Regions from separate parts of the Homo sapiens genome. Here regions 2, 3, 4 and 5 are each linked to region 1. Evidence: fine-mapped expression QTL. A gene starts in region 1. Each other region holds a variant in brackets. All regions are shown on one strand. Distances are from middle to middle. Region 1 holds the start of C1orf226 (chromosome 1 open reading frame 226). Region 2 overlaps NOS1AP (nitric oxide synthase 1 adaptor protein). Region 3 overlaps NOS1AP (nitric oxide synthase 1 adaptor protein). Region 4 overlaps NOS1AP (nitric oxide synthase 1 adaptor protein). Region 5 overlaps NOS1AP (nitric oxide synthase 1 adaptor protein).

Region 1 (6,136 bases):
TCCTCTTGCTGCAAAGAGCCCCAGAATTAGGATCACCCCCTTACAGGATCTGCTGGTCACAGGAAGACAGCACAATAGGCCCCTGGTGGGAGACCTAAAAGTGGGTTGCAGGAACCAGTTAAGGCTGGATGAACCTGGTCAGTCCCTTACATGGATCCTGAAGCAGGAAAAAGCCCACCAGCATCAGCATAAAAGAAAGGCAGGCAAGGGCAGGGCGGGGCCGCTCCAGTGAGGTCCAGAGCTGCAGGAGGCCCAGGCAACTTCAGCACAAGCACAAAGCACTTCCACTTAATTAAAACTGGTTTCCCCCCACAGTTCTTCTCACATTCCAATCTTGTACATGCTTCATTCTGGCTCTCACAGCAGGCCCAGGCCCTGAAACGGCATTATTTTAGGCTGCAAGGTGGCCCCTGAAAAGCTGTTCTGATCCCCAGTGGTCGCTCTTCTCTGTCCCATCCTCACTCCCTTCTCCCTGCTTCTGCTCTGGGTTTTTAGCACCAGCTCTGAATGCCAAGACCACCCCCAAGTTCCTGGGCCCTCCCCACAAAACCAAATCAGAGTGTGCTAGGCCGCATCTGCTGGGGCCTGGCTCTCCCTGTCTTCACACACTCAGCAAGAGAAGCCTGATCTTTCCTTCCGTGCAGAATGCCCACATTTTGTGTTCGACATCTGACCAGATGGGAGAAACCTTGGGAACCCTGGGTGGCAGCGTTCAAACCCTGGGTGAACTCTCAAGGTCTCAGGCCTGGTAAGCATCTCCTCTGGCCTCCACCCCAGGGGCAGAGCAAACATGGCAACCAGGGGCCTGCACTGTCCTGGGACCAAGAGGAGCTATGGCTGGGCTGTGGTCAGGGTGTGTGGCTTTCTAGGCCATGGCCTGTCATCAAGCCAAACACATCATTCCTCATCCAGCCTTCCTCCCGCTGAGGCCAGGGGCATCGGACCCATCAAGGAGGAGAGAGAAGGGACAGGGGTGTGGGAGGGAGAACAGCAGGGGAGGAGGCGCATGTAGGGGACAGGCAAAAAGAATTCCTGTAAGATCCATTGTCCTGAGCTGGTGGCCCTGCAATTCACTGAGAAGACAGGACAAGCTCAAGAGTGGAAGAGCTCTAATGTCCAAGGGCTGCAGCCCACTCAGAGGAGGTTACAGAAAATTAGGCTCAAAACGGCATCAAGTCCTTCAGCCATTCTGCGGATAGACTCTTTAACTAGAACTACTCAAGGACTTCCAGTCCTGCAAAATCCCATGATGGACGACTGGCTCTCTGCTGGTGCCTCATACAAGGAAGACAAAGGGCACAGCGGAGTTGAGGCCAGGGCCAGTGTGCGCAGTGGAGGAGAAAGCAGCAGGAAGACAAGGGCAGAGCTCAGCAGGAAAGAGCAGAGGCTCTATTCAAAGGACAGCAGGTCTGGGTGAGGGCCCTCATTGTCGAGGCTGGAGGTCCGTGCCTGAGGAGGGGGGCTGCCATCCTCCCAGGACTCAGCCAGGCTGATGGGGCTCAAGCTGAGTTTGAAGCCATTCCTCTCGATAAGGCTGGGGGAGGAGGCCCTTCTGCACTCAGTCATCTTTAGCTTGGATTCGTCCTGGCTATCCTTGTGGATTAGGTCAGGTACTGACAGGGAAACCTCTCCATTGGGCAGAACTTTGCCTCTCTCTTCTCTTTCCATGGTGGCCTCTGGCTGTGAAGCGTCTGCTGGGACGTCAGGCTGGGCAGTGGGAGCGGAGTCCTGGGCCTGCCCAGGTGATGGCTCTGTCCCATACTCCAGACTGCTGAGGACAGGCTGTGATGAAATCAGCATGTCCTGGGTGGTCTTCAGGGCCCGAGGGGTTCGCTTTCTGGTTATGGGAGGTGGAGGATCCAGCCGAGGAAATGTTTCTTGCAGGACTGACCTGTAAGGTTAATGACAATAAACACACATGCCTTAAGGACAGCAAGACACCAATCCACCTGCCATCTTGCTTCTCCAACTCCAACTGCACTTTCAACCCACCCCACCCAATAACTGCTCTACTCCTTGGGCTCTGGTTCTTGGTTTGGCACATAGGCCTTAGCAATTTCAGCATAACAGTAGCTTTTGGCCTGGTCCATGCTTACTCAGTGTTCAGAGCAGCACAAAGTGCTGGCCTCTAGAAGACAGGATAGAGACCGCTGGTGAAGCTTGTCAAATCAGAACCCAGGCAGTAAGTCCTGTGTTTAAAACAGGGAATGTGAGGGCATTCCCACCTCAGATGCACAGGTGTTTAAAACAAGGCCTGGAAAGAGCCTGTTGGTAGGAGGGGGAAGAACAGGAGGGCTGCTACAGGGGGCTTCTCCCACTGTGCCCTAGTGGGCTGTGACAGGTGCAGGCTTCTCCACAAGCAACAGTCTACGGCAGCGCTTCTCAGCTATGGCCGGGCATCAGAATCTACCTGGGGACCTTCTGGGCAATAGCTGGGTTCAAATCCAGCTCTGCCAAGTACTATCTTTGTGACCTCAAGCTATTTACTTTGTCTGTCTGAACGTGAGTTATCTGCAGGATGGAAATATCATCTACCTCCCAGGGCTGCTGGGAGGGTTAGACAAAATGATGCAACTATAGCCTGCAGCACAGAGCTGAGGACATGGTGTGCACTCAGCAACCTTCAGCAGCACAGAGCCGAGGACATGGTGGGCACTCAGCAACCTTCAGCTGTGGCTGCAGAAGGTGAAGCCAGCTCCCGAGAACGTGGCCTGATCCTGCAGCTTTTCAGTACAGGACAATCTCACACCCCTCCCTTGGGGCTGTTCTCCTGTGCAGACACTGCAGTTTGTCCCTGTACCTTTTCAAGTGGGTCCACAGAGGGGCATGGATGTTGGGCGGGTGAGGGGCTCACCTTTCATCCTCTAGCCAAGCCTCTGGAGCCGCGTCAGTCCCACTGGCCAGCTGTGCTCCTGCAGTCTTGTTGATCTCTGTCACACCCACACTGCCCAGGCTGGAGGGCTCCTTTCTCCTCAGGAAGTCATTCACTTTGGCCCCCATGGCTTTGCCCAGGTTCTTGAGGTGCTGGCTGCTGCCCACCCAGAGTCCTGGCCCCCCAGGCTCACCAGAGCCCAGAGGGGCAGAGCCGGGGGCCACGGGCTTGGACAAGTGGGGGAAGGAGCGGCTGGCCTGGAGCTTTGGAGTGAGGGCTGTGTTCAAATTCTCAAACATGCCGTGGTCAACTATGAACAAAGAGGCGACAGAGAGGCATGATGAGGAAAGGGGAGCGGTACCTGTGCTCTATCATTCAGTTTTTCCTTATCCCACACCCAAAACCTGTAACTTCCAAGGCTTTGGAAATATTCAAGAAAGAGCCAGCAAAGACACTCTTGAACTTTCCAGTGTAGTTTTCTTGATGGGACAGGAACTAGAAATTCTAGCTCTGCCCCACCCAAGTTAATCAGTGACTAATGCTAGCCATAAAAAAATAAAGTTGTTCCTGTAAACCTGCCTCCTTGACTCATGGGCTTGGCCCCTTTACCTTGGAGTCACCACGCCCTTTGGAGTAAAGAAAAAATGAGGATGAAGCAATGAAACATGACATTTTTACATCACCGTAAGCACGTGCTGAGCTCTCAGTGGGTTGGAAGCTGGTGGAGGGATGGCATGGATGAGGCTTGGTGTTAGAAGCTCCCCACTGAAGGCCATGAGTATAGCACATATTCTCCACAAAAAATGGGGCAGCAGCTCCTCAGGTCTACAGAGGTGGGCCTTGAGCGAGTGGGCCAGCTCTTGCAGAGGTGCTAAGTGGTGGTTCAGAATCAGTTCGTACCAAATGGATAGGAACTCGGTGCCAGTGAAGCACGAGGATCCCAATGAACATCAGCTTACTTAATCCTTACAACCACCTAGGGAGGTGGTACATGGAAGGATATCTACCTACAGATGAAGCCTGCAGGACTCCGCGTAATGCAGTGCCGTGCCTGAGGTCACACAGCTAAATACTAGCAGGGCTGGAGCTAGAACTCAGGCCTTCTAACCCACAGCTCAGGGCTCTGTCCACAACTTTGCCCTGCTATAGATCATGGAACAGCTGCCTATATATGCCTGGTACATGGTCCTTCTTGTAGGGATCCTCTTTGGCTTGAAAAATTAACTCAAAGAGCTGGGTATAAACCCATTAGGTTGTAAAGATTTGCAAGGCAGAGAGCATGCCTCATTCATCTTTGTATTTTCAACACCTAGCCTGGGTTTGGTACCTAGCTGTGCTCAATACAGATCTTGAATCGCCAAAACCCATTTTGTAGATAGAAAATTGTGGTGGCCAAGGTGGTAGCTTAAAGGTTTGTTATTGAAATGACTGGAGCTCCAGGCTCTAAGCCATGCTGTCCACACACTCACACTTGGCCATCCTCTCCCTATCTGGAAATCCAGCTCAGTCATCAGGCAGCCAGACCCACTCTGAGGCCTTGGAATCTGGGTCAAGGTTTCTGTCTACACCAACTACCCCAGATATGTTGTCAGTCTGAGGAAAGGAGATCGCTCGATCATTTGATGACTAGGCTCCTTTCCTTGTGAACACCTCTGCTAAGTGTCTATTTTCACTGAGCCTCTTCTAAGAGTAACTGGGGTTAGGGTGTACTTTTTCTTCTGCTGAATTTTTGTGTAAAGCAGTTCTTTCTGCCCTGCACTGCTGTATCCCGGGCCAGTGAAAACCTTTCTTGTGGTTTCAGTGGTGCTATCCTTTCTAGGCCAACTACCTAGGTATGCCATATTCTAAGGGCCTTTGGGTGGCAGGGAGGAAAACCTGTGGGAAGTGAAGTGGAGACTACTCTCTGCGGATGAGCCCTGTGGCCTGCACCACTGCAGGGTGAGGACCTGCCAGGGAACAGCATGACAGCATCCCTGGGACACAGGGCCCAAGCTGGCTGGGCTCCAGATAGACCCACCACACCAGCAGAAGCTTCCAGCCCGCTCCACAGCAAGCAGGGTCATCAACTCCTGATGATTCTCCTAAGTGTGTATCTTGCCACATCATCCACTTTGGCACAATTTGCCTGTCAGGTCCCACATCCTTCTTATTTTCTTTAATCACGTCATCCGCAAACTAGCAAAGAAGATTTGGAAACCAAACCATTTAACTATTTCCCCCCAAACCAGAAAGTACATAGACAACAATGAAACTGTACGAAATGCCCGGGGAAGGCAAATTGCCACCACTTCCCAAATCAGACATTTCCCTGGTGGTCTCCTTATTGGTTTAAAGTGACTTTTCAGAGCAGACATACTCGTTTTTAAAAAGGCAAGCACCAAAAACACCTGTCAAGGTGATTAGTAAATTATAAGCTATTATTATTTTTAAAACACTCTTTGTAATAAACAGAACTCTGGATTATGCACCATTTTGGATTTCCTGTATTTTTTGCTCTCTACCCTTCATAACATAGTCTATAACGCACTGAATTCTTAAGTAATGTAAAGATAGCCTACCATGCACTCCCTTTACCCTTGTCTAAGTCTTTCCAGTAAATACACCTTGTCTTAAAATGGTAAGGTCCTTGAGGGCCATAGCTCCTGAAGTGTTTCTTTATCTTCTACAATGCCCAGCTTAGGGTCTTGCACGATAGTAGGCATTTAATAAGTTTGTTTAATTGAATTTGACTTTTATATGAATTCTTAAAAATTGCATGATGGACTGACATTGTAGGGAAACTGCTCACAAGTCTTTTTCCATTTATAAAAACCACTCAAAACTCCCTCTATGGGAGTGGTCTTCAGGGGCTCTTGAGGTCAGACCCGGATAACTGCCCTTCTATTCAAAGTGAAAGTGGGGCTCTGGCTGGGGGGTCCCTTTATCCCTATGTCTGAGGATGTGCAATGGGTCCCTTTCTTGATGATGACGCTAATGACCCCCACACATTATCTCTCTTGCTTCAGGACTAGAGGCTTGATGGTTCAGAAAATAATGGCAATGGAGGACAGAGAGATGACTGGACCCCAGCCAGGTGGCCCTCCCAACAGTACCCCCCAACATGCACACACCCAAGCAGAGGAGGGCATCTGGGGATGTAAGTCATCCACAAAAAAACAGGATATCTTACCTGTCCGAGAAAGGGGCTCGGAAAGCAGGTGGGAAACAAACAAAAGAAAGACACATTTTACGTAGTGACCAGTCACTTTGAGAGTGTCACCTCCT
Region 2 (6,136 bases), 190 kb after region 1:
AAATTCTAGCTCCTGCAAGGTCACTTTTTCAGGACTGAATGTGCCAACCCAATTTCAAATGGCTCTCCTAGAATAAAAATGAAGTTCTACTTCCTAGAGGAATTAATACGCCCCTCTTGCCTCCCCTTCTGTGTCTCTCAGCCCCAACCCCCCGAGGAAAGCAAGGGCTGTTGGCGAGACACTGTCTCAGACCTAAATACCAGACCAAAGGTAAAGAGAACACTGGCAACCTTGCCAAATCCCCAGGACAGCTTTTATGTGCTCCTTTTGATCATCTGTGAGATCATTTAAGAAAAAAAGACCATTTTCATATCCAAGAGCCCCTCTGGAACAGAGTACAAACCTTGAAAGGTTACAGGAAACTTTTGCACAGACATGGAACTTCCAGCAGGAAAGTAGAAACCACAGTGCCCTTTGAGAAAACGTCTCAACACAAAAAAGGGCACAGCCAGCACTGAAGGGTACTTAAATACGGGGAGGACTTTCCTCAGCCAGAGAGAGGGGTTCCCAAACCAGCGCAAACTCACAACCTACAGAGATGGACCAACCAGGCTCTCTGCAAACAAGACTGGGCAGAGCAGTCTTGCAAACTCATCGCAGCCAAGGGAATAGACTCTCTGCTCTATTAAAGTAGTAATGGCTGTTTTGGTTCCTTATTTTATCAGAGAGATGAAGAGAAGAGAGGGGACATATAGGGGTCTTGCGAGATGGTAATTGGGAAGTTGGGAAATCATGTTTGAAAACCAGATGGAGACGAAAAGAGGAGTCTGAGATGGGAAACAGGGCAGATATATCTGGGATATTTATTTAAGGCTATGCATGGGGAGCTCTGCAAGCAGAGTGTGTATATCTGACACTTGTTGAAGTGACAGCCCTGGATCTCTGCAGAGCCTGTGAGACGGGAGGCCTCAGCAGCTGTCACACTCCAGTAAGCTGGCAGCTCTGCCTTGGATCTCCTGGCAAATCCCTGCCAATAGCTCAGACAGAAAGGTAACCACTTAATTAAAAAGAAAGAAAGAAAAGTAAAGAAACACCCATCTAGAGATGGAAAAGAGAGCAGCAGAACCTAATACTGAGAGGAAGGGGTGAGAAAAGAGTGATCTCAGGCTTTAGAAAAAGGGTCAGGAAGAAATAGGAAAGATCTAGCTTGATTTCTGAAAAGGGCCCCTTTTCCCTGGCCCCCTCTAAAATCAGGAGACATTCTTCAGGGAATTGTCAGAAGAGAAGGGAACAGACAATCCAACTAAATACAGATGGAAACCAAGAGAAGTTAGAGTCTCTTGGCTGCTATTCAGCAAGATAGACAAACATTCAGTAAATGGTCAAGGCGAAAAGGAAGCAAAAATAATCCATCAGCACAAATTCTTAAATACCCTCTCCTTACTCCACTCAGACCTGATTGCTTGTCTAGCTCCCTTTCTAACTCTCAGGCCATTCCCACTTTATCTCTTAGAGCCTTTTCAACAGCCTGCATACCCAACAGCTGTGAGTTCCCTGGGTCTATCCCTTTATGCCCAGGGACTGGGACATGCTCCAGGACAAAATGCCCCAGAATCTTATCTCCCTTCACCTCAGCTTACCTCCACTTCAGCCTGGAAGAGCCCTGAAATCTGCCTTAAGATAATTCAGAAGAGACAACCTGTCACTTCGGGGATCTAGAGCTCCTATTATTATCAAACAACCCAGGCTTCCAGCTTTAGCTCCTTTCCAGCCACTTCACAGCATCACTCCTTAAGGCATTTCAGTGTTTCTTGCAGCCTGAGAGTCATCTTTTCAGTACAGTTAAGAAAAATCTGTAACTATTGTAACTATCCTTCAACATCCTGAGTGTTCGCAAAAGCACACAGTGAGTTCTCTCATCACAGGAATTTTTCTGCAGAGGCTGTCAGTTCCTGGCACATGGGCACACTCTTGACTTTTACCAGGGGTCAAAGTGGCCTGTTAGATAGAGGGTCTGGCTGAAATCAGAAGACTAGAATAGATCCCTTGCTAAGTCTCCCCCATAGTCTCTATAAAGGAAGGGAGGATGTGCTCTGCTCTGCAAAAGCTCAGGAGACCTGAGCATTAAACTGAAAAATAAAACATATATCAGATCCACACAGAAAGGTGCAAAATTACCTGAGGAAAACAGAAAGGTGCCCAGGCTGGTAAACCTGACTACAGGTAGATTAAATTATTTTAAAAATCTATATTTACATATATTTAAATCAGCAAAGGGATTGGCCAGTGGAAGAACAGAAAAGTTGAGACATCTAAGCAAAGAGGCAGTGCCCACTGAGGCACAGGCCAGGGAAAAGTGGCCTTGCCCAAAACCACATGGCAGGCAACAGCCTTTCTGTGGTGGTAAAGCCAGTCTTCAAGCCTCTTTCTTCTTCTGGTTCCTCTAACACAAGTGCCACTTGTATTCCTTGTTCTGAACCTAGTGTCCCCAGTGACCAGGCCTGCTGCACCAGGCCTCATGCTACACTCAGAGTGCCTTCCTCCCCACCAGCTACACACCAACACAAAAACCCATACATCATCCCTTTTGAACTTTCCTGAGCCCTTTCCCAGTTTAACAGGACAATCTGCAGAGTAGCAACTTTCACACTAGAGTCTAAGACACTTCTTGAAAAAACCCTGGAAAACGGCAGTCAGGTTGATGGCTCAGACCAGCAGTTGTCAAGCTTGAGCACACATCAGAATCACCTGGAGGGCTTGTCAAACACAGATTGCTGGGCCCCACCCCCAGAGTTTCATATTCCACAGGTGCTGGGTGGGGCCTGAAACTCCACATTTCTAACAAGTTCCCAGGTGAGCCTGACACTACTGGTCTGGGGATCACATTTTCAGAATCACTGGTCTGGACTATTCAAATAATCCAGGACACAGAGGTGGGAGCCCAAAAACACTGGCATTAAAAACCCCAGACAAGTCCCTTATCTTCCAGGGGACAACCACTCCCTATCTGAGTAGCAGTAGAATAGAACCCCCTAGCTCAGCACCAACCACAGGCCAGGATCTACATCACCACTTTGGCATTTATTATCTAATTCTACATGAGTAGGGTAATACCTAGGCTAAATGAATGGTGTGATTTCAATGACATTATTACCATAATTAAAATTAATGGGCCAACTTTCTTCATTAGAAAGATCAAGAATGAGTGACAAACACAAAGAGGTCAACTACAGGATCAATCTGAGTTGGACTCTCTCTTACCCCCAGGCCTTATCAATGGGGGAGGAAGAGGAAGAGGAAGAGAATGTAGCCAGCTATCTAGGAGAACGCGGCAAGAATTTCTGGAATCCCTTATCTTCTTCTGCCAGCCCAAACACAGATCCCTCAAGTAATTCAGTAAATCAAA[G/C]AAGACATGCTAAAGAGTCCTGGGGGAACACAGGATCTTCCCATTGTACCTCCACATGGGCAAAACCTGATAATCTCAGATCTATGGGTTGTGGAGAGGAAACAGAAAGAAACAAGCTGTACAGTTGCCCTCACAAACCCCTGCACCATAGTGCACAGAAAACACTTCGAAGCAGGGAAGATCCCCCCCAGGAAAGAACAGTCAGAAGCAAGCTAGGAAGAAACCCTACCCCAGGAAAGAAGCAAGTGGGGCCAGGGCAGGAAGATCCTCAGAGTAGTGCCTGTCTCTTAGGGAACTCAGGGATATTTTCCAATCTGATGTTCCTGTGTGGACAGTGCCCGTGGTATGGGGCACACTGAGAAAAATCAAAGTGAGGCCAACAGAAGAGCTGCTTTACATAAGGCTGATATGGACGGGCAAGTCTAGCCATGGGGTGTTAGACGGTGGTGGACCAGGGAACAACTCTGTCAGATTCTGCTTACAGAGTCTCCCACACAGGGCCCCTGCCCATTCAGGACTCTAGAAAAGTAACACGATAGGGAGCCATTGCTTCTGGAAAAAGACACAGCCCTCAAAAACCCTGATGATGGTTACCCTAGCATCTCATCCCTCTTCCACTGCTCTCCTCAGACCATCAGAATGTGACCAATTCCTGAGGTTCTCAGACATTAAGGGACAGAAAGGTAAACACTGCATGTTCTCACTCACATACGGAAGCTAAAAAAAAGTTGATTTCATAAAAGTAAAAAGCAGAACAGCGGGTCCTAGAGGCTGGGAAGGGTAGGGGGAAGAGGGTAATAGGGAGAGATTTGGCAAAGGATACAAAATTACGCTACATAGGAGGACTAAGTCCCAGACTTCTCCACCACTGCCGGATAACTATAGTTAACAATAATATATAAAGTTTCAGATAGCTAGAAGGAAGACACTGAATGTTCCCAACACAAGGAAATGATAAATGTTTGAGATTATGAATATGCTAATTATCCTGATCTGATCATTATATATTCTATGTATTAAGATATCATTATATACCCCATGAATATGCACATTATTTGTCAATTAAAAATAAATAAAATCAGATTGTTTAAAAAAATGTGTTCAGAACATGTATACATATGTAACTAACCTGCACATTGTGCACATGTACCCTAAAACTTAGAGTATAATAATAATAAAATAAAATAAAATTTAAAAAAAATGTGTTCAGAGAAGAAAGAAATCTTGAAGTTGAAGAGCCCATTCAAGCAGGGAAGGACAGCTGATAAAACTAGAGATGTTTAGCCTAGAGAGATGGCGGAGCCAAGTATCTGAAGGGCTATCATGGGGAGCAGAGATGAAACACGTTCTATGTGAACATGGCCAGAGAGGGGCAGGGAGGGTAAGACAGAGACTGTTAAAGTTACATTATTTTTGTAATATCCACTACAAAAAGTTAAGCTCCACAAAATCTCACTTGGCATCAATTCACAGGCCTGGATTACAAAAGGGTGAGAAACTCACTAGCCATGCCCTAGAAGGTCTCCACGATCTGGGACTGGCCCCTCTTCATCTTCACTGGAGGGTGCTCTCACTCACTTCACTCAGCACAAACCATCCCTCTGTTGCTGGGAGGGGCCCAGCTCACTGCTGCCTCCCAATCTTGTACCTGCTGATCCCTCGCCATGAACAGATCTTGGCAAGCCTGGCTCATTGGCAATATTCAGGTTTTAACTCAAATTACCCCTCCTCAGAGAGGACTTCCCAGACACTTTCAAAGTAGCCCCACCTGGCCTTCCCCAGAATCACTCTCCGTCACATTACCCTCTTTATTTAGATAAAAATAATTTTCTCTTTATTTTCTCTTTATTTTATTCACAGAACTGACCACTCTCTGATGTTACCCTGTCTACTGTGTCTTTGTATTATAACCAGACTTTCCCATTTGAACATAAGTTCCATGAGAAGAGAGATCTCGCCTATCTTATTTACCTGTTTCCCAGTGCCTAGAACATTCTGTCAGATACTGATACTCAAATATTTGTCTATTAAATGAATATTTGTTGAAACACCAAGCACAGTCCAATTCTTTGAGTAGGAGAAATCTGATTCTGTATGCAAAGGTGTTTTCTTTTCCATCCAAATTATGGAAACCAGTTTGCTTAAGGTAAGAATTAACAGACTACTAACAAAAAATACCAGTTTTTTCTACAATAAATAATTAGCAGAACTAAATGAGCACCTTAAACTTTTTCCATGTTTCAAATAGATGAAGTCTGCCTAGACAGGAACACATTTTGGTTTTTTATAATGGCATTTTCAAGTGACAATTTCTGGGTAGTTATTAAGAGCTGAAATGTTCAACATATAAAAAACTGTTCTTAGACCTCCTATTGTAAGGTAAAATGACATGATACAACTATCATAACACATATACTATAATGCAAATTCAAACTTCATATACATGAAAAACACTAAAATAATCTTTTTATTTATTTATTTATTTATTTTTTCAAGATGAAGTCTCACTCTGTCGCCCAGGCTAGAGTGCAGTGGTGCAATCTCGGCTCACTGCAACCTCCGCTTCTTGGGTTCAAGTGATTCTCCTGCCTCAGCCTCCTGTGTAGCTGGGACTACAGGCCACTGTGCCCAGCTAATTTTTGTATTTTTAGAGATGGAGTTTCTAAAAATACTCCTGACCAGGTTGGCCAGGCTGGTCTCGAACTCCTGATCTCGTGATCCGCCCGCCTCGGCCTCCGAAAGTGCTGGGATTACAGGCGTGAGCCACCGTGCTCAGCCTAAAATAATCTT
Region 3 (6,136 bases), 150 kb after region 1:
AGAAGGAATGGAGACTAGCAGGTAAGTTAAGTGGAGGTCACTTAAGAGAGCTGCTTCTTTGATGAAGCCCTAACCCTTCCCCTGTAGACTCTATCCCCAACCAGGGCTGATGCTTAATGTAGCACAGGCTGTGACCCGCACAAAAATACCCAGCTGAGGGGGTTAGTGGGGACTGGAACCCATCCATGCTCCAAAGGAAGAGACACCTTTCTCTTATTCATACGTCCATTCTCCCTCCTTCTCCCCCAACCCTGCCTCCTATTCAAGTCCACACATTGTTACACAGAACAAAATTAGGCAGGGCTATCAGGTTAAAGCACTGCACCATACTGTAAATGATGCTCTCATTAAAAACAACAGCACGGTCAAGCAGAGAGCATGCTTGCATATGAAATGTGATTAATCCTGTCAGATGTGGCTCATGATGACTGGGGCCACACCACCACGACAGCAGCTCTGCATCGAGCCTAGCTGTGTGCCTGGCCACACCCCAAAGTGCTTCACACTCCTCTCATTTCACCCTCAGAGGCAGACAAGAGGACAGCAAAGGACTCATGTGTCTCCCATGCTCTCTGAAAATGACTTCCATTTCTACTGGGGACCAAAAGTAACAACAAAAGTAGCTTTTTATTTGTAGAGCACACGACTTTTTCAAAGTACATAGCTAACACTGTCCCCGCAAAGCCTGCCTCCTTTAAGTGCTATAGCTGATGAAGTTAGAATGGGTGATCTGTGTCCACTTGAGTTGAATATTCTTTAAGTAATAAAGGACTCAGTTATATTTTAATTCTTTAAAACTGATTCTCCTTCTTGTCAATCAACTGTCAATTTTCTGTGTTAATTTCTGGCAGAGGTAATAGAGTTAATCCAAAATCATAGGTGTGTTAAAGTCCAGATTGACCAGTATCCTTAACAAACCAGGCACTGAGCTGAAAAGGGGATCATTTCCCAGTGGGCCTTAATGCCCACAAAAATCCCTGTGGAAAATTGAGAAACAGACAGAAAGTGACTAGCCTAAGGCTTGAGAGTGAGTGGCTGACTGACTGGCAGAGGGCTGGAAATCAAATTCAAATCTCCTGACCTCTAATTTCAGAGGGTGTCCTGCCTTCCCAAGGCCCAATTTTACAGTTAAATGGCTTAACAAGGGCTTTACTGGATTGAAGTCAACATTAAAAGACATTAGATTCCACCAGCACAGTCTTTGGCCCTTTGTCTCTAATGAGAATTTGCCCAGTTAAAATTTCAACATTGGGTCTAACCTGAGGGATCTTGACTTTCAGCCTGAAGCTCTTGAAAAGACTTGATTAACTTGGGAGTTCCTGCTACAAAGAAAGAGTCAAGAACCCTCTCCAGCAAAGGTGAGCTGGCCTCAGTGGTAAACGGGAAACGAGCTGGTTTAAATCACCACCCTCTCACCAATCATCAAGATAAATTCCATCAAACATACACGTATTGTGTTTCCAGGAGAGCTGGGGGTTATCCAGGGCTCTGAATAATATGCTACCATCAAGATGAAACATTTTCCTTCTCAAGTAACTAGCAATTTAGCTAGGAGAGGCTCCTCTGATGCCTAAGAAGGAGGGTGAAGACAGGTCAGTGAGGAAGTACAGCCTGCATGCAGACCAGGAAGCCTGAAACCAGCCAGACTCTTCTGCAATACATGGACTGGCCTGTGAACTATGGGTTTCGATTTATAGAGACAACATTTCTAACCAAGGGAAACAGAAAGGAAGGCAAATTGAGGAATGCAGGAATACACCTGCCCCCCCATCCCCCACCAAAGAAAAAGAGGGAAAGGGGGGCTGGAGTGTTCAAGAAAGCAAAAAATGGAAAGAGGAGAGAGGGGACTAGAGGGATGACTTGCCCTGCTTCCTCATGGCTTAACAGAAGTAACATATGGGCAAAGGGTGTGCTTTAATGGCAGACTGATGGACGGGAGTAGAAAGACATGTCCGCTAGTTACTCTCTGGGTATCCCTGGACACACTGCTCAAGCTTGCAGCCCTTCAGCTGTGAAAATATGAATGGTATGTTGTGAAGGGCAAGTCAGCTAAAAATATTTTCCTGGGGATTAAGTGAGATCGTATCTGTAAAGCATCTAACAGGTTCATAGGGGCTCAATATAATGGTAGTTTTTGTTATTAGTGACCAAGGAAAATGGTAGCACAGTTGTACATATTCAAAATTGCTGATTGGTATTAGAAAGTTGGACAGCTACTAGCATAGGAATGGAAAGCTGAACTGTACTATGGAGTTGAGGTGGAAAGAAGCCAGAGGAATGGGAAATCAGTAATGAAATCAAAGACCCTGATACACAGAATCTGGTGATCAGTTAACATCTGTGGAACGAATGAATGAGAATTTAACTAACCTATATTTGTCATTTACAATACAACTCTAAACTGGGACTGGGGAAGTGACATGAAATATCACTTAACATGTAGACTGTGCTCCTAACAAACTCTTGGAGGATCCCCCTGGCCTCAGTTTCTCATCTCCAATGAATGAAACCAGATGATGTCTATGTGCCTTCTAGATCTCAGATTCTATATTTCTTTGATTTATCCAACTGATGCGACAAGTATCAGCAAATGATCTAAACACATGGATGCATGTATGTGAGCATGAAACATATTCATGTCATCAGTGAGTCAGGCAAGTGCTCCTTGAACACTGGCCCCATGTGGACCAAGAGACGGAATGCCAGGAATTAACCACCATCACCTTTCTTGTAACTGCCCCTTGGCCTCTAGTGATGCAGTCACTACTCTGCTTAATTAAAACCACGTACACAGGCCTGGTTTTAATTAAGCAGAGTAGTGACTGCATCATTCTGGCCACTGAAGCTTTGATCTCCCCATGCAGCATGTTTCCGCACTGTTGACCATGCTCCAAGAGCCTGAAACACAAACCAGCAAGAGCCTTTGACAAGTCAGCCTTGACGAGGCTCCCCATGGCCCCTTTCCAGGTATGCGCAACAGTGAGGACCTGCAAGGTGCAGAGATCAGGGAGAGGGCAATGGAAAAAGGCAACAAAGGCTCATGCTACCAAGAGCCAATACCAGCGCCAGGGAAG[T/G]CTTCTTCACTTAGGCAAGCTCTTACATAAGAGCTTCCCAGTAAGGGTCATGCCTGTTGCCACAGAGTGCAACGAAATCATGACAGAGAGAAAAATGATTTGTTGTGGGGAGATGAGTAAGATTAAGTTCAAATTCAAGTTAGCTGAGTGAACCCTTCTATGGGGGAAAAGCTTTCAGAATCAGGTCCCCAGGATCTAAACCTCATAACACTTGGCAAGTTAAAAAAAAAAGTTTTAAAATGTTTAATAGGAAAAATTTCTCTCTCTCTGTACTACATTTCTTCTTCACATATTCAGGATTTACTGAAGGAACGCTCAGGTTTAAAACAATAAAAGGAGGTAGCCCAAATCTAAATGAACAGGTTGAGAATGTGATGAGCAAACTCAGCCCAGGGAACTGTCAGAACAGGGCATAAAACAACCAGCGAGGGGTTGGAATCAGAGTAGGGTTCTGCCTCAACAGCCGATTGCAGGGTATAGTTTGCAGAACTCCAGAAGCAACAGCCTCTTCTATGTGGCTACAATTCCCCACTCAATTTGATTAAACACAAAGGGCACTGCACATGGGAGTGGGAGTGAGGGTGGGTGTGGAGCTGTGGTCCTGCAACAGAGCACTGTGAAAACCCATCTGTGGTTTCTGGAATGGACTCAGGAGTTATGGCAGCACCCATTCCTCCTGTGATAGAAACCTTAGATTAGAAACATCATGGAGAACAGGACAGCAAGAATTTTAAGGAGGGAGTGAGTTGGGAAGGATGGGGACACAAAGTGGCACAGGACACATAGAGAGGAAGAGACACATTGGCTCCACGTGGGAGGAATTCAGAAGTTAGAGACCCTGGGCAACTTGGGAAGAAGAGCTGCCACAATGATCTTGCCAACTTCACAAGACAAAAATTTCTATAAAAGAGACATCCAAGAGAAAAATTTCTATAAAAGAGACATCCAAGAGCACAGCTCTGCCATTCCCTGATCTAAAACTCCTCATTTTCCCACTATCTATGGAATAGGAACACTCCTTAGCATGGTGGTCCTCAATGCACTCTATGATATAAGCCCAATGTGACTTCCTACCCTCGCTCCTTTAAAGCCCTCTTGTTCCCAACTCATTGCTAGGATACTAGCTCTGCTTCTCACTGCCTATAGCTTTTCCTCATCTTCATGTACTGGAATGATACCCATTTCTCAAGGTCCAGATACCATGCCCCCTTGTCCATGAGCAAAATGTGCTTCCTCAGCACTCTGCCCATCTCCTGGGCCCAATCACATTCTGCCTGTGTTTGCAGTCCTCTCTATGCATGTTGGTCTTTCCTACTAGATTTTAAATTCCTTGGGTGTTAAAACCATGTCTTATTCATCTTCATGTATGTCCAATAGCAGACAAGATGTGTTTCTCAAAGTAGGTTACTACCACATGTGTAATGCTTCCCTAACTGTTGAATTTTAAAGGAAAAAAGAAAATCACAAACCATTCCAAGGTGCCAGAGTCAGATCTCCAATCCCAAAGTATTCAGGAGCATGGAGAAGAGGTTAAACATCTCATACGAGTTTCTTGGAAGAAGAGGAACCACTTAGTAGGCCAAGAAAATCCTCACAAGTCCTGGCCACAAAGCAAAGTTTTGAGAGGCTTGAGTTCAAAACACTGCCTTGCAAATAAAGTCCCAGAAAGTCATATCTATCTTTGGGATTGGACAATAAAGTACTTAAAATAAATGATAAAAGTTCATCAAGTGTTTCTAAGGTTGATGGTTATTGGGGGAAAATTGGAGTGACTGCTATTGGGTATAGGGTTTCTTCTTGGGATAATGAAAACATTCTTAAATTGTGGTGACGGTAACACAACTGGATCTACCAAAAAAAAATCACTGAATATTACACTTTAAATGGGTAAACTGTACACTATTGATTTTGTCTCAATAAAGATGTTATTTTTAAAGACATACCTCAAGTAAAGGAGGACACTTGGAAAACAACCAGGTTAGAGTCTAGGGTAGTCTGACCCTCCTGGGAGAGTCAGAGCCACAGCAGTACAACTACCCCGCCAGCCACCACCATGCAAGAGCCACAGGCATTGGGGTGGGGAGGAGCTACTTAGCAAGCTCTGTTTGCTTTGGCCATGAGGATGAGCAACACCAGGGGTTCCATATATAGCTCAATGCTTCTCAAAGTGTAATCCCTGGAGCAGCAATATCAGTATAACCTGGGAACTTAGAAATGCCAGTGCTTGGCCCTACCTCAGACCTACTGAAGCAGAAACTCTGAAGGTGGGGCCCAGCAACCTGTGTTTTAATAAGCCCTCCAGTAGATTCTAAAACACACTGAAGTTTGAGAACCACTACACAGTTTAATTCTTAAGGGCACAGACTATGGAGCCAGACTGTAAATTTGAATTCTGCCTCATCCTCTTTCTGGCTATGAGTCCTTCAGCAAGTTACTAAACCTCTGTGTGTTAGTTTCCTGTATATGAAATGGGAGAAACAACCATACCTATGTATCATAGGGTTATTATGAGGATTAGATGAGTTCATTTATGACAAGGACTTAAATCAGTGTCTATTACATAATAGAGTGCATAATAAAGGTACATAATAGGTACATAATAGGTACATAATAAAGCAAATAACTATTTGCTTTAAAATTTTTTTAATATTCAGATTTGGGGTTGGTCTCATGTACTTTCACCCTTGGTAAGCCAAACCAGCATAAAATTGAGGCAGGTTAGCAGAATCAAAGCACAAGAGAGAATCCCACAGAATGGGCAAGCTGTCTTGTAGCTGTGTCAGCAGACCGCATCTGCAACACACACACACACACTTAGACACACACACACACACACACTCTAAGCACAAAAGAAGATCACAACACTCTTCAGCTTCCCTGAGGAAAAGAAAGAACTTCCACTTTGTATGACAGAGCAGGGAAGATAAAATGTTCTACATAAAAGTGGCAAAATAAATCAATTCCAATAACAGCCTTTTAATTCTCTGATCCCCAAGAGGAAAAAAGGAAGTGAACAATGTCAAGTATTCCAATCACAGCCATTAACAAGCAGCTTTTAACAG
Region 4 (6,136 bases), 160 kb after region 1:
CAAACTCATCTTGCATAGGAGGGTTTTTTCTCCTTATTTGCCCCTCACTAGCAGCTGAAATAATGATTGAGCCTTGACCAATAGGATATACAACTCTGAACAAGGTTCCAAAGTAAGCTTTTAGGATTTTCTCTAGAACGGACAACAAAACATAAGATATGTGTGTGCTGCACAGTTGTAGGTCCTATTCTCACACCTATCTCTGCTTCCTTCCTGGGCCATGGGAGAGCTACCTGCCACAAAGTTCAACCATGAGTGATTAGGCTCCAGTCAACTTGCAAGGAGCATGGTCCCAACCCCAGTCCACACAGGAGGATGGTTCTGATCTCCTGTCATGTGCTAAGTGCACTGAAAGGAGATCTTAAAGTCTGGGCCATCAATCCCCATTCTTGGTTTCTAAGATTTCCCCCTTGTTTTTTAATTGTTATATTTTTAAAATTGTTCCTATGTGTTTGGAACAGAAGAAATAATTCTGAATGTGCTTACTGTACTTTATTCACAACAAGTCCACCAGGAAATGTTAATATGGCCCTCTTAAATACTAAAAATGCTCATATGTGTGAAAAATTTATGTTTTTGTATATAGAAATAGATTAAACAACATCAATGCACAGCGGGGGAAAGACTGGAAGAATCTACTCTATGAATGTTAATAGAGATAACTCTGTAATGTTGGAATTAAGGGTGATAATTTTTTTAGCCTAAATATTTTAAACACATTTTCTATAACCATGTATTAATCATTATCCAGGATCCTTTTCTTTCTTAAAACTCACAACTCAAAGGAGAATGAATGGTGCATTTCATTTCAGGTAGTATGATGGCCTGTATATTCTTCCCTGTCCCCCTTAGACAAACTGGCCCTCTGGGGATTTAAAAAAAAAAAAGTCACTAGTATACTGAGAAAGAAGAGTTAAGAACAGAGTCCAAGGCCTGTCATCAAAGAGCTATTAAAGAGGGAAGAATTTCAGAGCTCCCTGAAGGCAAAGCTAGCTTACAAAGACACAAAGTGCTAATGGGGATATTTACCACTTGTTCTCTAACTAGCAGCAGAGCTTAGGAAGACATACAGCCTAAGGAGGGAAAGTGAGTTGTACTGGCCTACATACAGGTGAAAGTAAATATTCAGAAAAACTAAGGATTAAAAGTTAGTAAAGGCTTCAATAGAACATCCACAGAAAAGCCTTCCTGATGCCCCCAAATTAAATCAGGTTACTCTGTTAGGGTCCCCTTACAATCCTTACTAATCCTTCATTGCACTCATCACAATTTGCAAGTTCACAATTATTGTTGTAATGTTAGGTTTGGTATTTAGATGGTAAATACTAAGTATTTAGATGTTAATACTAAGAATTACTAAGTAAATACTACGTAAGTAAATATTAAGTATTTAGATGTTAGGTTTAGTATTTAGAGCTGCCCCACAATACCAGCCCAAGGAATGTGTCATTTTGCTCAAGGCTAAATCCCCAGGGCCTAGCACCATAGCAGGTAATCAATAAACATTTCTTTTCTTTTCTTTTCTTTTCTTTTTTTGGAGGCTGGAGTCTAATGGTGGGATCTCAGCTCACCGCAACCTCTGCCTCCCAGGTTCAAGTGATTCTCCTGCCTCAGCCTCCCAAGTAGCTGGGATTACAGGCATGCACCACCACGCCCAGCTAATTTTGTATTTTTAGTAGAGACAGGGTTTCTCCATGTTGGTCAGGCTGGTCTTGAACTCCCAACCTCAGGTGATTCGCCCACCTCAGCCCCACAAAGTGCTGGGATTACAGGCATGAGCCACCACGCCCAGCCAATAAACATTCCTTGAATGTTGAATACAAGCAAAATATTTTTATCTTGCTTTCGTTTCTCTATAACATTCCTTGCTTCTTAACATAAAATTAATTTGTTAAAATAATTTCATTGTATGAAAAATAAATAATTTGAGCTATTAGTATTCTGCAGCTAAAGTAGAGGTGACTATAGGGCCTATTCTATCCTAATGACACCATCAGTAATCTACGGACTGTGCCAGTGGTGAAGGCAGAGAACATGGGAGGACTTCACAAGCCTCTCTGAGACTTGATCCCAAAACTTCCCACCCATTTAAGTGAACAAAACAGCAGAGGTTAGCAAACTGACAGCCTTACCTGGGTTAGTTGCATCTGTGACAGAGAAAAACTTTAAGGAAATGGATCGTGGGACAACACTGATTGTTTATGAGGCACCTGCAGGCACTTTTATCCTCCTTGGAAGAGGGAAAGCATAACTTAATTTATAATATTCAAAAAACACTCCCACAAACACTCACTTTATCGTCCTTTACACAACCTACCTGAAGAAGAGGCACTGTGCACTGTGGATACTATTGTACCCATCTTACAGGCAGGAAACTGAGGCTCAGGAAGGTGAGTGATGCTCTTAGAGATACAGTGGGGCTGGAGCATCTTCTGTGGTGGAGGGTGTCCTGGTCTAGGGAGTGGGAACACTGAAGGGAGTGAGG[G/A]AAGAGGCAGTGCAGACAGAAGGCACACTGCCCCACAACTAGCCATGGTTTGTGCCATGACGATGGTCCAGGCCTTCAGGAAAGGTGAGAGCTACCCAAAACTCGTGAATAAGTAATAAGGAGAGTGACCTCATAACCCTACCCTAGGAGGACTCTGCTCAGACATGGCTAAAGTTTGTGCTGACACACAGCAGGCCCCAAATTAAATGGTTTGACTTCAAGGAGAAGTATGTGGGGTGGTGAAAAGTGGCAAATATCACCTGCAGGACTTCTGAGACTCAGACATGTCACTGGGAAGAGAATGGTTGCCAAGAAGAAAGCTCATTAGAACCTTATTTTTACTGAGATGCTTCTTTTTCAATGCTCACTTCTTTCTTTGTTTAAGACTTCCCGGGGGCCCTGCTTTTACTGGCTGAGTTGCTCACTGACCCAAGAGCCCCCAGCCCATCTCTGATAAGGCAGTGACCCTCAGGACATGGGGTCTCATCCTGGAAACAACATCAGTCTTAGCCAAAATCAACAGGGAAGATTCTGGTCAATTCTCCTGGGAACAAAGACAGGCACTACTTGTCCTCTCTAACTTCTCTCCTTTCCTGCCCTAAGTTACTCTGGATAAAATCAGGCTCAGGGGATGAGTCTGTAGCATTTCCTCTGTCTTCTTGTTCAGTACAATTTTTCACTTTTATTTCATGTTTAATTAGTTAAAGTAAAGCTTTCCATCAGAAGAGATATTGCTCTTAGTGCCACAGCTACCTGCATCCAACCTGGCACTTGTCTTTCTATGTGACCTTTCTCCTGACCCCCAGCATTCCAATTCTAAGCCTCTGCACCTATAAAGCTCAACCACCTTGAACATCAAATAATGTCCTAAGTTTCCATTGCCAACTTTTGATCTCCTCTGTCAAAAAAGTTTATTGTTTTAACCAAGGTAATGAAGTAATGAAAGTTCATTACCAAATGGAGAATTATGAATGTCAGAAGCAGGGAGAAACTGCCAGAATATATTTCAATCCTGGAAAAAATAAGTGCCTTGAATAAAAAAGCAGGCAATAAATATGTGTTGAATGAATGAACGGTCTCAAAAACTCATTTCTCTCCTTGTTTCCTGAGTGGATCCCTGACCTGCACAAAAGTTCTGTGCTTTTTTTTTTTTCTGTCCCCAAAACACTCTGAGATCTGGAATGAAAAGCGTTAGGACTGCAAAATTTGTTAATTACAAGTTAATGACTCTACAGCCTTTAAACCTGTGAATGCAAAGTGTCACCCAGTACAAATTAAAATCAGTATTTACATAAACTTCCCAAAGTGAACTGGAGAGTGCCCTTAACAGAGTGACTCTGGCAGAAAATGTATTATCCATGATCCATGCACCGTATCCAGGCAAGAGTGAAAGGTGCCATTTTGATTCAAAAATAAATTATATATACATACATATGCACATATATATTTTCATGTATAGTATTGAAATGCTTATCTTGACTTTGTCATCTTAGGCTTCCTTTTGGCTTTTTCCTTCAAATAGACTAAACTGCCATTATGGGTAGCAGGTATTCTGAACTGCAAGGCGCATGCTTTGAAATTTTAATAATTTCCTATATCCTCTACCTACAAAACCACAGCTATTAAAACAGGTGAACTGAACAGCAGATGATTCAGAGAGAAAATATTTTATGTAAACAATGATAAACACAATTAAATTTTTTTTCTCACAAATGTCTTAATCAGTTTAATTAACCCCTGATCTTAACCTCAGATTTCTTAAAGCTTTTTCTACGTCTTGACCTTGGAGCCCCAACCTCTTTCAGACATTCCTCCAAACATTATGCTCAGCTTGACCCCAGAAGCCTTTCTGCCGACCTGTCCTTAATTATCACAGAGCTCCCCCACCCCACCCCTACACACTTTTTGGCAATACAGAATCTATTCTATAGCTGCTTTCAAATAATCTCAGGAATTTTCTTAGTTGTTTTCTTGTCCTCAACTGAGTTTCTCTGCTTCTTCAATACAAGACCAAAAAACAAACAAACAAATAAAACAAAACAAACTCACAGAAGTTTGGGGAGGGAGGGAGGTCTATAAACTGCACCTCTAAGTTAAGAGGAGAAAATTCTGTAACTAGATTCTCTCCATTCTAAAGAAGGTATTTTTTCACTTAACTCTTACATGTAATAGGAATAATCTCAACTGTCTTAGATATAATTTCAGAATGAGTTTCTTAAAGATTACATATACTTTACACTCAACATCCTGAATAAAATGTTACAACGTCTTTGAACAAAAAGCTAAGACTGCATTATTACCAATAAATGAGCTGAAGTGACAACAGGTGGGTTTATTCATGGCTCTCCAATGACAAAATGGTAAAAGAATAGTGTGATCTGTATGTAAATACTCATAACTATCACACCCATTTTCTTCCATTCTCTTGACCTAATCAGCACACGTGATCTTAACCTCACCCCACAAGGAATGCAAATATCCATGCTTAAAAGTGGATGTACTGTTTCTCTTTTCATTTTTATTTCAGCAGTTTCATGCCTTTTCAGAATTATGCAAAAAATGCTCTCATCATGGCCAACATAAAACATAAGTCCCCAAAAAGGTAAAATATAGTACAACTTCATAACCAACCAGCAAAAGCAAATGTAACAGGCCACCTGTGTGTGGGCATGTGCCTCTATGGGTTATGAACTAAGTTGAGTAGTAATCACAGTTGAGGCAGAGTTAGCATCAAATAATTTGCATTAAATATTATCAAAGTAAAAAAGCAAAACAAAAAAAACTCTGCTTGATGAAAGATGCACCAATATGCATCTTCTGTACACAAATGAAGATAACCTCAGAGGTGTCAATACCACTTAACAGTCCTCACACTGCAAAGGATCCTGACAATGCAGGGGCACCCAAGTCCATAATGAGCTCTTTCATTAACATCAGTCAAGTAAAAGGTCTCTGAAACAACTGCCTGTGCTCAAGGAAGAAATTTATGATACTAGCCGTGTTAGATATTATATACCGCATTGTATACAACACTGCTGTGCTCCTTGTATACTGCCATGCTCAATAACGTGGCTTAAGTTGAAAATTAACCATGTGCATTCAAGCTGTCACATATTGCTGCAGGAAGTAAGGCTTGGTGCAACTTTTTGAAGAGTAATTTGATATTACCTAACGAAATTGGCACCACCTCCAATTCCACTATTCCACAGCTAGGAATAAGAACTGTAAAAATCCAGAGAGAGCAAGGAAAGAAATAGAAGCGAAATTCATTGCAATATTGCAACATTTTTTATTCAACATTTTTTATAATGGCAAATAATTTTTAAGACACAAATATTCAATGGGAGAATGATTAAATAAATTATAATTTAATCTATATAACAGAACATTATGAGGCCATTAAAAAGAAATGGAGTACAGGTGTCTGCATATATTGACCTGAAAGGACATCTTTGATTTATCATTGAGTAAAAAGAAAACAAGCTATAGAAATGTATATAGTATGATCCCATTTTTGTCTTAAAAAGTAGCTGACATTTACTGAATGTTTACATTCCAAATACTGTGTTAAATGCTGACAAACGTTTTTAAATTTAATATTTACTAACAGTCCTATAAGTTATTTAATACCCTCCGTTTGAAAATTAGGGA
Region 5 (6,136 bases), 45 kb after region 1:
TAGGGAGGTGATTACTTAAAGGTGGTCAGTAGAGGCAGCCTGTGCCTGGGAGGGGCTGTGTCTTCACCATCTGCTTTCTGCACAGCCATGCTGGCTCCTGCCTGCTAGGCCTACCCCACTTAGTTACCCCACCTTCTGGCCTGCAGGGCAAGAAAACTGGTTCTGCCTTCAACCCCAAAATGCAAGAATCACACACGCTGGGATTTTATCATTAATTAGCCATGTCTGCACCCAAGAGGGAGAACTCTGGTAAATAGCAGCTTTAAAAAGTCCCTTCCAGAAGTTTTTATGAATGCTTGTCTGTGGGTCTTCTAGATCACAGTGAAGCAGTTGCTCCCACCTCATGACGACATACAGGCCTTTGGAGACTAAAGCAGAGGTTTAAAGATTGAAGGCAGTGAGGTACAAAGGGTAAACAAGTGGAACCTTGAGAAAGCAGCCTTTTTGAGTTCCAAAATCTGGCCATTCTCTGGAATTTACTAGATTTTTTTTTTTTTTAAAAAAAGCATCATTATACTGCATTATTTCTGTACAAATCCAGTTTAGTTTTACATAAGCCCATAAAAGTGCTTTGCCACACGGATCAAATCTTCTCGTCCAAAAGCCATTTTCTATTAGCAGCCCAAAAGCATTTGTGGGCTCTTCATTGTCAAGATTAGGCTGGATATGGTTGCTTTGATATTTTCAAAGCTGGAAAGGGATCTCTAACCTCAGAGTGGCTCTTAGCTCCAGATGGAGAGCCTGCTCATGGGAGTGTCAACTACAGGCAATTTTGTGAAAATACAGCTGGAAAGGGAGCTTAAAACTGTATACACTTACCTTATACACACAGCAATGTTTCTTCAAACCACCCATCTTTTCACGCTGACACAGCTCCTTCTCCCACAACCCTAGGACATCCCTCAAGCCAGAACCAAAGTTAAGTCCAAATGCAATGAACAGCTGTTCTCCTCAGCACACCTAATGTGGGTATCAACTTCATACCTAGCAGGAGTCAACATTTGATGAACTGCGGCAATGGTCATGAAAATAACACTATATTCACAATCACTGTGGGTTGTACACCCGAAAGCAAACAAAAGCCGACAGTGGTAGCTTTAGGAAGACATAAATCAAAAGGTTGATTCCTGTACCTCACTGGCCCATAGAAAAATTATAGTCAATCATGATTTTATTTTCTCCCATCAAAGTACACACCAGACCCCACCCTGCTTAGCTAATGAGATCAGACACATTCAAGGTGGTATGGCCATAGACCATGATTTTATTTTCTATTCTCTTTCTTAACGACTTTGTAGTTGGTTGGTCCTATAAAATTTGGGAATCTTTAAGTGCCATATGCATGTAAAGAATGGTTCTTATTAGTCATATTCTATAGCTGATTTGATAAATAATTTTGGGCACTGTTCTGAATTTCACTGTCCTGGAAGAAGCTCTCTCTTTACTTTACAACTTACAAAGAGGATTAAGAGTCACCAGATAAGCAAGTAGAGAGTATAAGTACAAAATACCAGATGAAGATGATGATGACAATGACAATAATAAGAGGAGAAAAGAGAATAATGGGGGCACACATCTTTCAAGTAAGGTTCTTTAATGGTCTACCAGCTCTCTAGTTTACTATTCCCCTGTCCCCTCCTCCACTCCCCCTCTCCCCCATCTCTTTTGGGTACTCAAATTTGACTGACAAGTGGTTCTGAATTTTAGAGAACTGAAGTCCATGAGGTCAGCTGTGGGACAGCTCACAGATTTATAATTCTTATCTATCACAGCAATACAAGATAATGTCCTTGTCTTGACCTTAACTGCCACAGAATCTCAACAAAAACAGAACTGAATGTCATGTTTCTTTAATGTATTTTTTTGGGTTGGGGGGAATCTTAGTAAAAGATTCAGCTTATATCTATCAAATGATCTTAATCTATGGAATTTACAATGCCAAAGCATGAAAATACATTTATATTTGGACTTCTACATACAGTAGGATCTACAGTACTAAGGCTCTGAAATGGTAGATGGGTTAGGTTTTTGTCCAACACATTATTTTGTGGCTTTGATTATATAATTTGGTTGAGGTGATGCCTTGGACATCAGAATATTGCTCAGTATAAGGAAAGTTTAGTTTCAAAGCAGGTGTGATTTTCTACATTGACAGGACATACTGCATCTTAAAGTTTCCAACAGATAGCTGTGTTTTTCCTTCTACTCTGCTAGTCCATGAAACTTAGTACCCCAGAGAAAAGAAGTCTGAGTTACAATCCCAGTGCTGTCAGAACCAACTGGGTGACTGTGGACAGTTAATTCTCCTTTCTCAGTATTGATTTTCTCATCCACAAAGAGAGTGATTCAGACTAGATGAGTTCTGAGACCCATGATTCCTGCATTTTGACTTCCCAACTCAACCTAAAGTATAAAAAACAGACTCTTTCCCTAACTTTAGAACTTTCCTATCTTTCATCTCGTAAGTTTGACCAGGCAAGTGACTTATTCTTTAGCACATGGCTGTCATCATCATTCAAAATCCATTGCAACCTCTAAAGGACAGTTCAACTTCACAGCTGTGGCCCCCAATTTGATAGTGACAGCATTATAGGAGGAAATTATTTCTCCTAACCCAAACCAATCGAGCTGTGATTGCAGGCAAAATTATTTCAAGGAGCTGCCCATGAAGATAATGGGGAGATGCCTGCAGCTCCTGTTAATCACCAGCACTTCACGCACTGATGCATTAATAAGTGCAGTCACTGGTAATCAGGGCAGACAGCCATATACTCCTAGAGCTAGAAGAAAATGACAGGAGGATGACATCCACTCCACGGGAGAGGTCAAGAGACCATGCAAGAGTCTTCTCGAGAGGCAAAAGGCCCTGCAAATGAATACTATCATTATATCCCCCAAGGAGGGGAAACAAGGAATGCCCATGTTATTAGCAAGCATCTCCACTGGATGCTCACAGTGAGGAAAAGACCCACTCCCATCCCTCCTTTCTAGCATGGGTCTGAAGAGTGCTAGGGTCCCTCCACCACAATCCTGACAATCCTTCCCAGTCACAGAGAATTTGTTCCTTAAAGATGACGTCACTTCACACACAACAATCAGCACTCCTGAGATGCCTTTCATCTTATTTGATGGCTAGAGAAAACTCAAGTCCAGAAAGGCTCACGTATCTTTCTTATGAGTTTTGTGTAATAGGGTTTAGCGTTCAAAGTCCTGGCCTGAGAAGGAGGAAGCCTGTTTCTAATTTCAGTGGCATCATTGATTCACTGTGTGACCAAGGGTGATTTACTTCCTTGGGCCTTTTCTTCTTCAACTACAAAATTGAGTCAATATTAACTACAAAAAGATACTATGAGGAAAAAAGGAAAATCTATGTTAAAGTGATTTGGGCCATTCGGAGTTAAGGAGCTCTTCATACCCATGTAATAATTACAGCAGAACCCAGTTACAAATGGGTCTTGGAAAACAAAGCAACTTCTGAGTTA[T/C]ATAACTTCCTCATGAGCCAACAACAATAGTATAATGGAGTGGGTAAGAGTGTGAGCTCCACAGTCAGACCCTCTGGGTTCAGTTCTGACTCCATTACTTGTTGAGTCTTTACACACATTATGTACCTTTAGGCCCCATTTTCCCACCTATAAAATGAAGAGCATAACAGCACCTACCTCACAGGGCTGCTGTGGGAATAAAGTTAGATCATTCATGTAAAGAGCTTTGAACAGTCTCAGGCATATAGCAACTAATCAAAACAGGTTAGATATTATTATCTGATGTAATATGAGGCTGGAACTTAGATAATCTAGAGTATAGAAGAATAGCAGGTACCATGTTATATTCCTGCAATATTTTTGCTTTCTAGCTTCTGGTGAAAGCCCACTTGAAAAAAAACTTAGCTCAAGGATACAACTCCCAAGGTGGGAGCCACACTGGCTATCTGTGTGAGTGGCCCAAGGAAGATCCATAGGTACAGAGTAATAGCTGTGCAGGGAACAAGGTCGAGGGAGGCCCTCAACCAGGAAAGCTAAGACATCTGACCCATATTCTCAACCAAGAGAGGAGGTAACCCTTTCCCCATGTGAACTCTAGGGTGATGATGACACCCCATTAGAGGTCATGAGCATATACGCAGGGGACATGATGTGATATGAAACAGCAATAACCAAAGTCCCAACACAAAAAGGATCTCAGACAAGGTTTTTCTACACTATGACCAACACGAGGGCTCCGGAGAACACCCACATCTGCGGGCTTCCAGTCAAGAGGACTCCCTATTGACTTCCAACAACCCAGCAACATCTCTGCAACACACATGTCCTCTATAGTCCTTTCCCCCCGCCCACCACTTCTGAAGCATTCCTATGATTTGCCAGTTAAAACTCCTTCCCAAGTTAACTATTACCTCTTGACATTAGAAGTGCTTTATAAAAAAGGTAAATCACCATGTTTGGAGGCTAAGCAGAAGGGCAAGCAAAACCTTGCAGATGTGTTCCCCAGCCCTCCCCAGTTCTGCATCCTTTGCCGAACAATTCACTTCCCTTTCTTAGCTTGGAAACCAGCCTTCCCACCTACAGCTCAGCAGCAACAGGGCTCAACGCCCAGGCTGACTGGAAACAATCCCCTCAGCTGCATGGCTCCAGGCCAGGAAAGGGCCTGAGAACCAACTCTATGAAGAGCTAGGGTCTCAGTAGGTGAGGATGAAAGCGGTATAGGAAACAGGAAAGCCAGAGATCAGAATTCGCTGTAAGAGCTACGAGACATGGAAAAAAAATTGACATGATAGGGAACCAGATGACTACTCCTTTTCACGGATAATGGGAACTCCATTCTGTGCTTCACTTCAAGATCAAAGTTCCAAGTGAGCACTGGTCTTAAACTCAGGTTTTGTCAGAAGTGGATGCCCCCACTGCGTCCGTATTGCTATGTTAGATCTGATAGCAAGGCAAATATAACATAATGGTCCTCTTACCTAGGTTTCCTGCTCAAAATTCTTTTGTCCTGCATGTCTCCCTGGTTCTATTCTAGCCAGTGCCTATTCATGAGAACTCAGGCAAGTCATTTAACCTCTCTGAGCCTCAGTTTATTCATCGGTAAAATTGGGAAGTGAAAGTTACATGTCTTACCTTCTTTACAGACGTGTTATAAGGATAAAATAAGATTAACTATTAAAGAACCTGGCAAATGATAATGCGTTATTTGTAACTCTAATAAATTCCAAGGTCCACATGGTCCAGTCTTTGTACGAAACTAAAGTCAGAAGCACAGTCAAATACTCAAAATGAATTAAAAGGGAATTCCAGTCTTTTGTTGCATCTGTCAGAACCTTACAGACGAGCCAATTCATGACCATCAGGGAGACTTTGTATTTCCTTTTCTCTCCTCCCCAGGTCCCCTACACAAGGCCACATACGAGCCTTTCACTTTCCCAAACTCTAAACTTTCTCATCTCCAGCGCCTATGGCTTTTCTTTTTCTCCCTCTTCCTATTCCCCTTTCTATCAGTTCTTTAATGCAGCTTGACTTAGCCTCATTTATGTTTTTTCCCTCTCAGCTATACTATTATCTAGATGTGAAGTCTGGCAAGTTACTCTTTTATTCCTGCCATCTTTCCAGTTGTAGCACTTTTCATCCAACTCCATGATTTGCATTTAAAAAGCCTGGAACAGGGTGGTTAAGGGCACAAATCTCCATAGAGGAAGAGGCTAAGTTAACAAAGCATAATTCTCTTTGTGGAGCTAGGGTAGGGAATAGGACACCCATCAGTAAATCTGGACCCTGGCATGTGTTATTGACAAGGTACTTGACAAGGTACCTAAACATCTGCTAAAGAGGCCTGAAGACAAAAGATGCATAAAATGAAGTTCTTGTAGAAAGCCAGGCTTAGTAGTTTGTTTCTAGAATGATGGACTTACTAGGGTCCTTAGGGGCACAAATAGTGTTTTCCAAAATCTCTTCTGCAGAAAAACAGTTCCCAGGATATTAACACATATTACATGGAAAAAATATGATTCCATTGTGAAATTAGTTTGGGAAATTCTGGGTTAAACAACATGTTTTTTATCATCAGACCTTCTCAGCAACTTAAATCAGGTAGTTTTAACATGAAACATTTTGGCTGATAAATGTTTTACAGAACACATTTAGGA

The links.
Region 2: its variant is fine-mapped to the expression of C1orf226 in lung (TOPMed, PIP above 0.99). The same link has a PIP of 0.9 or more in subcutaneous fat.
Region 3: its variant is fine-mapped to the expression of C1orf226 in whole blood (TOPMed, PIP above 0.99).
Region 4: its variant is fine-mapped to the expression of C1orf226 in blood mononuclear cells (TOPMed, PIP above 0.99).
Region 5: its variant is fine-mapped to the expression of C1orf226 in whole blood (TOPMed, PIP above 0.99).

What each region holds. Positions count from the first base shown.
Region 1 is chr1:162,378,937-162,385,072 of GRCh38, reverse strand. C1orf226 (chromosome 1 open reading frame 226) reads right to left here and starts at 3,345. Exons shown (of 2, transcript NM_001085375.2): 1 at 2,855-3,345; 2 at 1-1,891. The coding sequence starts at 3,171. The coding sequence ends at 1,390. RefSeq lists a silencer at 2,400-2,694.
Region 2 is chr1:162,188,760-162,194,895 of GRCh38, reverse strand. All of the region lies in intron 2 of NOS1AP (nitric oxide synthase 1 adaptor protein), which reads right to left. Among named protein-coding and RNA genes, the nearest start is that of MIR4654, 35 kb to the right of the region's middle. The variant G/C (reference allele first, on the strand shown) is at 3,347.
Region 3 is chr1:162,232,310-162,238,445 of GRCh38, reverse strand. The region is part of intron 2 of NOS1AP (nitric oxide synthase 1 adaptor protein); the gene reads right to left. Among named protein-coding and RNA genes, the nearest start is that of MIR4654, 78 kb to the right of the region's middle. The variant T/G (reference allele first, on the strand shown) is at 3,075.
Region 4 is chr1:162,221,670-162,227,805 of GRCh38, reverse strand. The region is part of intron 2 of NOS1AP (nitric oxide synthase 1 adaptor protein); the gene reads right to left. Among named protein-coding and RNA genes, the nearest start is that of MIR4654, 68 kb to the right of the region's middle. The variant G/A (reference allele first, on the strand shown) is at 2,486.
Region 5 is chr1:162,333,764-162,339,899 of GRCh38, reverse strand. The region is part of intron 5 of NOS1AP (nitric oxide synthase 1 adaptor protein); the gene reads right to left. It also overlaps the pseudogene RNA5SP61. Among named protein-coding and RNA genes, the nearest start is that of MIR556, 5.7 kb to the left of the region's middle. The variant T/C (reference allele first, on the strand shown) is at 3,483.